2 linked regions of the Homo sapiens genome follow. The protein of the gene in region 1 purifies or fractionates together with the protein of each later gene. This does not show direct contact. Each region holds a gene or a part of one and is shown on either strand. Other genes may lie near its edges.

Region 1 (3,818 bases):
ATTCCCCCACTGTTATCCAGCTAGTCACCTATCCTTACAGGCAATATCTGATTGATCAATGCTTGAGTAACACTGGGCTGGCAGAGATTTCTCATCTGGGCTTTGGAAGTTTCTGTAGTTACTATATATGTGGTTGTTTTTGATATCCTGGAAACATCCAGTTCTTAGATATATAGTTACACTGAGCAACCCCTCTTATAAAGTCAACTTAGAAGGAACTTCTCTAGTTGGCCCCACTATGTGTCTCTTCTCTCTTCCCTATGGCATCCCTCAGCCTAATTTATGATATATGAATTGCCTCCCCTTTAAACTTCCTTATGGGATGGCTATGACTTCTTTAAGGTAGAGGAGATAATTTATATTTTTGAAATTAATGAAAGGGAACATTAAATATCCTTCCAAGACCCACCTGGAGATTTAATTCACAGCAGGAATAAAACAAAGGCAGTGATAAAGTCAATAGAGGAGTTACTAATACAGAAGTTTAGTGTTTAGTTTAATATTTGGTCAAGGGATTTTTGAAAGTAATATTTGTACATAATCTGAAGAAAACTGAGAGTGGACTGAGTTTGGTTTTATGATACAAGACCTTCGAATTGGTAACCTTGGTATTTTTACCACATGTGTCAGAAGATGATCCTAACATGTGCCCTTCCCATAGATTTTCCATGACCCTGGTCTCTGGCTTCCTTCTTCTTAGAGCCCCTGTAGCCATTGGAGTTGCAGCCATGTCCACAGCTGAGATGCTCACGTCAGGCCTGAAGGGAAGGGGCTTCTCTGTGCTCCACACTTACCAGGACCACTTGTGGTGGGTACAGAGTTTCTTCTGTTTTACAGAGAACCGGGGCAGCTGGGGAGAGGATGGGGCCTGTGATTCAGGAGTGAGAGTTTTGGTCCTAGCCATGTCTTTAAGCAAGTTGCTAAGCCCAGACTTTTATTTCCTTACAAATATAAAGAAAATATTTTTTTCCCCTGTTTGGACAAGTAATGAGAGAGAACTTTATTTTCTAAGTGAATTATAGAATCTTAGACCCAAAGGAAGACCTTAGGGATCATCTGCTCTGCCTCTCAGTACAGTGATACTCGTTTTTTTATAGCCCTGGTCAATCTGGCCCTAGCTGCGATGCACATTTTAGACATCATGTGACCCCATGATGAGTGCTTCTGAATCCTAATCACTGCAGGGTAGACCTTTAGACTCCAGGATTATAACCTGATTACTTTTATGTTATTCAGATTTCACATTCCAGACTCCTCCTCCTCATGAAAGTAACGCATTCTGACTGTAAAGGTTGCATTCTTGAGACGCGTACCTGTTCATTTTCTGGTTATTTTCTTGTCATTTTAGCAAAACAGTAAGCAGTGATTTTCTCAAAGCACACATTTAGCCAAGTATTGTGGCCTGTTGGTATAGATTCATTCTTATATTTTCCAGCCCAGTCTTGGAATTATTAATTTTTTTTTTTTTTTTTTTTGAGATGGAGTCTCGCTCTGTCGCCCAGGTTGGAGTGCAGTGGCGTGATCTCAGCTCACTGCAAGCTCCACCTCCCGGTTCACTCCATTCTCCTGCCTCAGCCTCCTGAGTAGCTGGGACCACAGGTACCTCCCACCACGCCCGGCTAATTTTTTGTATTTTTAGTAGAGACGGGGTTTCACCATGTTAGCCAGGATGGTCTCGATCCATTGACCTTGTGATCCACCCACCTCGGCCTCCCAAAGTGCTGGGATTACAGGTGTGAGCCACTGCGCCCAGCCTTTTTTTTTGAGATGGAGTTTTGCTCTTGTTGCCCAGGCTGGAGTGCAGTGGCGCAATCTCAGCTCACTGCAACCTCTGCCTCTCGGTTCAAGTGATTCTCCTACCTCAGCCTCCCGAGTAGCTGGGATTACAGGCTTGTGCCCAAAACATCCGGCTAATTTTTTTGTTTTTAGTAGAGACAGGGTTTCACCGTGTTGGCCAGGCTAGTCTCGAACTCCTAACCTCACGTGATCTGCCCATCTAGGCCTCCCAAAGTGCTGAGATTACAGGCGTGAGCCACCGCTCCCCGCCGGACTTACTGATTTTACAAGTACTTGCCAAGTCCTCCTTTGCTGGTACAAGCTCATTTTTGCCTGTTTTTAGATATTTGAGGGCTGATGACTGATGTTCTCCTAGCACCTTGTTGTTTAACTATCAGTCTGGGCAACAGCAATCAAGGTCAGGTTGTCTAAGTTGTTTTAGCAGCAGCTGCTTTGGTTCTCTCGCTGCACCTTGAAAAAAATATTTATGGTATTTACCTGATCAGAATAGCCTAAACATACCCTTTGGCTTTACTGTGAACAACACTGAGAAGCCTTGCCGTAACTATTAGTTAAAACTTAGTTTGATTTGCATAATGTTGGCTAAGATAAAGTTTTTTACTGCTTTGTGTGCTTTGCTATGTGGCATCGCCTGTTTTCCTGTCTTCCTAAGGCTTAGTGGCATAAAACCATGGCAATCTCTGCTTTCCACGTTAGACTGCATTTGATGTAACACAGAAGCCACTGATTTTGCAGTCCTTGAGCAGTCCAGGTGTTTGTGTTTTATTACATATGCTGAGCCGTGGGTTTGCATTTCACCAAACAGATATTACAGATGCATTCGCGATCTTAATGTTCATATTTAATTCAAATTGGTTTTGTTATTAACTCAGATGAAGGGAACATTTTTGGGAGTTTATCTTAAACTCCTTTTTCTTTAATCTTTCTCAGTCTTGGGATGTCTATTAATAGTATTATTCTTTTGGGATAGGGAGGAGACAAGATTTATTCTCCCCATTTCAGAGATGAAGAAACTGAGGCATGGAACTTTTAGGGGCCCAGAATTGAAAGTACGCTTGAGATGAGGGCACAGGCTCTCTGCCCCCTCCTGGCCACTCCTGCCTGTTGGCTCTCTGCTGTCTCTGACCTCACTGCTGACTCCTCTGTGGCCAGGGCTGGAGAGTATTGGAGCTGCTGCTTGATGTTTCTGACATGAGATTTTTCCAGGCGGTCTGGAAACAAGTCCTCTCCACCTTCCATTGCTCCACTGGCCCTGGATTCAGCAGATCTCAGTGAAGAGAAGGGGTCTGTCCAGATGGACTCCACCCTGCAGGGAGACATGAGGCACATGACCCTGGAGGGGGAAGAGGAGAATGGGGAGGTTCACCAGGCACGTGAAGACAAGTCTCTCTCAGAAGCCCCAGAAGACACCAGCACCAGGGGCCTGAACCAAGACTCCACAGATAGCAAAACGCTTCAAGGTATAACTCTAGGAGGAGAAGAGCCCATCTCCCCACCTCTCAATTTAGGAGCCTGACGAACTCCACTCCACTGCTGACTAGAATGGCCCTTAAGCTTCCGGGGGAGGAGGGGAAGGTCCTTATTTTCTGTGAGGGTGGCGCAGCAGCCCTTTCACATCTTGTTTTTGAATCCTTTCCACATAAGTCACGTCTTCCTGGGAGCTAATCTGCCCTGGCATTTGCCTGTCTTCAGCTACAAAGCCCTCCAAGGTTTCTTCTGGCTCAACTTCTCTGGGTGAACACTCCTAGCTTGGTGGGACTTTGTGGCTTGACTCCTTCTCTGGGGTCAACCCTCTTTAAAGGCTCAGTGCTCAAGAGAGGCTGGGAGCTTTGGTACCTGGGAATGGGTTCCTTTCAGAGCCAAGTGGGTGAGGTAGGGATGAAGCTGGGGGTCGTTTTCTTGTACCAGGTGTTCTGTATCCCTCAGGAAGGATGTGGCTCTTGTCTTTTCCCTGCAGAACAAATGGATGAGCTGTTACAGCAATGCTTCTTACATGCCTTGAAGTGCCGAGTCAAAAAGGC
Region 2 (3,818 bases), on another chromosome or scaffold:
TCATATTTCATCACATCTCCGATAGAAGTACTTTTTTAAAAGGGGCTGGGGGAATTCTACCCAGAAATTGCTCCTGAATTCTCCTACAGATCCCTACTTCACGTAGTACAATCATAGGTTAAGAGCAAAGGCCCTGGAGACAGACTGACTTGGGTTTGAATTCAGATTCTATCACTTAGTTCTATGATTTTGAGCATGTTGCACAGCCTTTTAAAGACTCAGTTTCCTCATCTGTAAAACATTGTGAGGATAAAAAAAGATAAAATGTAGCGGGACATGTTGGCTCATGCTTGTAACCCCAGCAATTTGGGAGGGTAAGGAGGGCAGATTGCTTAAGCCCAGGAGTTTGAGACCAGCCTGAGTAACATGGCAAAACCCCATCTCTACAAAAAATACAAAAATTAGCATGTGCCTGTAGGCCCACCTACTTGGGAGGCTGAGGTGGGAGGACAGATTGAGCCCAGGAGGTTGAGTCTACAGTGAGCCATGATCACACCACTACACTCCAGCCTGGGCGACAGAGTGAGATCCTGTCTCAAAAAAATTAATTAATTAATTAATTAAACAAAATGTGGGACCCAGTAGGCATTCAATACATGTTAGCTACTGCTAGTAAAAGTATCTGGGCATGTATTTTATTCAAGGACCAGAGCTGACCCCAGAGGGATTACAGAAACTATAATTTGCTACAGTAAATTGTTTGACAGATAAAACTGTCAAACTCCCTTAGGTCAGGGCCTTTGTCTTTTTCTGGTTCACCAGTGTATTCCCTGAATCTAGAACAATGTGTGACAGACATTAAGCATCAATCTCAATATCTGTTCAATGAATGAATAAGACCCCATTAAAGGAGCATAAGAGAGCCTGGCTTTACCTTAACATACTCATTCCCTGTCAAAATTTTTAACACTTATCCTAAGGCACTGTTAAAGTTGTTTATTATTTTTAATTGCTTACCAAAAACCTAGAACAGTGTTCATAATATTAAGGTACTCAAATTTATTGCAATTAAAACTTTGCTGCTGGAGAAGCTGAGAGCTGAACACATGGTGGTCCCTGGAGCGTGGTGTGCCCAGAGAGGGCATGGAAGCTCCATGCCTCTTCCCCTATACCTCACCCTATATAGCTCTTTGTATCCTTTGCAATATCCTTTATAATAAACTGGCTGGAAAATGTGTTTTCCTGAGTTCTATGAACAGGTCTAGCAAATTAATCAAACCCAAGGCAGGGAATGGGGGGCGGTATTAGGAATGCCCATTTTTATAGTCAGCCTACAGAAGCACAGGTAAAAAAAAACCTGGGGCTTCAGATTGGCATCTGAGTTGGGGGCAGTCTTCTGGGACTAAACCCTCAACCTGTGGGATCTGACACTACCTCCAGATAGAAAGTGTCAGAATTGGCCAGGTGAGGTGGCTCATGCCTGTAATCCCAGCACTTTGGGAGGCTGAGGCGGGCGGATCACTTGAGGCCAGGAGTTCAAGACCAGCCTGGCCAAAATGGAGAAACCCCGTCTCTACTAAAAATACAAAAAATTAGATGGGTGTTGTGGTGGGTTCTTGTAATCCCAGCTACTCGGGAGGCTGAGGAAGGAGAATCTCTTGAACCCGGGAGACAGAGGTTGCAGTCAGCCAAGACTGCGCCACCGCACTCCAGCCTGGGCAACAGAGCAATTCTGTCTCAAAAAAAAAAAAAAAGGTGTCAGAATTGAACTGAATTAGAGGACACACAGCTAGTGTCCACTGCTGAAGAACTACTTGCTTGGTGTGTGGGGAAAAAAATCTCACACATCTGAGGTCACAGAAGTTTTCTGTATTGTGAGAGTATAAGATAAACTTATTAAAGTTTCTTATTCTATATTCTCAGAATTGGCGTCAGAATTGGGATTTGCTAGAATGACTTGGCTCACAGACACATATGGTTTGGGAAGAAAAAGGATAAAAGGATAGGGATAAAGAACTTTGATTCTTAGGTGGCCAAGTGGTCACCCATGGTAAAGAGCTGAAGCTGTGCTGTCATCAATTACTAAAGGTAAAAGTTATCCATGGAATCCAGAGATGGATCCAACTGCCTGGGAGTTGGTTCACAGGATGCACAAGGAAATGCAAACTAGTATTAAAAAAGTGATATGCTGGCTCGGCACGGTGGCTCACGCCTGTAATCCCAGCACTTTGGGAGGCCAAGGCAGGAGGATCACGAGGTTAGGAGATTGAGACCATCTGGCTAACAGTGAAACTCCATCTCTACTAAAAATACAAAAAATTTAGGCGGGTGCTGTGGCTCACGCCTGTAATCCCAGCTACTCAGGAGGCTGAGGCAGGAGAATCACTTGAGCCTGGGAGGCAGAGGTTGCAGTGAGCCGAGATCGTGCCATTGCACTCCAGCCCTGGAGAAAGAGTAAGACTTTGGTTCAAAAAAAAAAAAAAAAAAAAAGCGAAATGTTAAATCCCTTGGTTATTGTTATCTGTAACAGCTAAAATGAAATTAAAAGAAAGTGGTGGGTTGGACCTTCCCGCTAGACCAAGCTCAGCTTTCAGTGAATGTGAGAGCTTAGGCCACTAACCTCAAAGCTGTCCCTCAAGGGAAAAATGTATGCCGGGACAACAGAAAGTGCTTCTAAGACCTCTGGTAACAAAGAAGGTGGTCTGCAAAAATCAAAGAACTATTGAAACCAGGGGGTACAATGTGAAGGAATTGTTTCACTTTGTACATTAGTATCATAAGCTTCCTGAAGGGGACAGTCTGATTCCATAAATGCCAAGTGGAACACCCCAGATCCAGATAGAGCCACTGATATACTTCATATGCAAGCCATGTGAAACTGGCTTTATGATGACTAGGACATTTACCCTCTGAATATGCCCACTACCCAGTCATGGTAAATGCTGTGGTTAAGGGTGACCCCTTAATGTGGATAACCTTACTGTTGCAAAATCAAAAGACAGTTCGAGAAGCCTTATCAAATGTGCTGTCTCAGTTTCCTCTCGTGGGTCTTACAGATGCTAATAAAACCATTAGGTTAAGAGAATGGTGAGACAGAGGGCAAATGGATTCAACCCGGAAGGTGGAAATTTTTAAATGGTTATTAAGAAGTAAGGTAGGCCGGGCGCGGTGGCTCACGCCTGTAATCCCAGCACTTTGGGAGGCCGAGGCGGGCGGATCACGAGGTCAGGAGATCGAGACCATCCTGGCTAACAAGGTGAAACCCCATCTCTACTGAAAATACAGAAAATTAGCCGGGCTTGGTAGCGGGCGCCTGTAGTCCCAGCTACTTGGGAGGCTGAGGCAGGAGAATGGCGTGAACCTGGGAGGCGGAGCTTGCAGTGAGCCGAGATCGCGCCACCGCACTCCAGCCTGGGTGACAGAGCAAGACTCCGTCTCAAAAAAAAAAAAAAAAAAAAAAAAAGAAGTAAGGTAGCAGGGTGTGGTGGCTCATGCCTATAATCCCAGCACTTTGGGAGGCCAAGACAGGATGATCACTTGAGCCCAGGAGTTCAAGACTAGCCTGGGAGCCAAAGGGAGACCCTGCTGGTCTCCCACCATTAAGGGGTTCCAAACAAGTTTGCTATATTTACCCCAGTTTGGAGAAATTGTAAGTCAGGAGGCAGATTACAATGAGAAATCTGATCTGAAATTGTGGAAACAATAGGTAGATGAGTCAAGATAAAGACTGGCAAATGGGCAAGGGTCTCTTGGCTCAACCACCTGCTGGGGACCCCAAGCCTTCTGTATATAAGTAGGTAAAATGGTCAGGGAGTGGCAAAAAGAAATTCCTGGGACTCCTTCATATGGAAGCCCCAGGTACAGTAGTACCAAGAGCC

Evidence for each region.
Region 2: the proteins of EIF2D (region 1) and CKAP5 fractionate together in Homo sapiens (co-fractionation; one large-scale study listed by BioGRID). This does not show direct contact.

Annotation. Positions count from the first base shown.
Region 1 is NC_000001.11:206,602,390-206,606,207, reverse strand, and holds part of EIF2D (eukaryotic translation initiation factor 2D), read left to right. Parts: intron 1-700; coding exon 701-808; intron 809-3,003; coding exon 3,004-3,257; intron 3,258-3,754; coding exon 3,755-3,818. UniProt on the Homo sapiens protein: Translation initiation factor that is able to deliver tRNA to the P-site of the eukaryotic ribosome in a GTP-independent manner.
Region 2 is NC_000011.10:46,839,589-46,843,406, forward strand, and holds part of CKAP5 (cytoskeleton-associated protein 5), read right to left. Parts: intron 1-3,818. UniProt on the Homo sapiens protein: Binds to the plus end of microtubules and regulates microtubule dynamics and microtubule organization. Acts as a processive microtubule polymerase. Promotes cytoplasmic microtubule nucleation and elongation. Plays a major role in organizing spindle poles.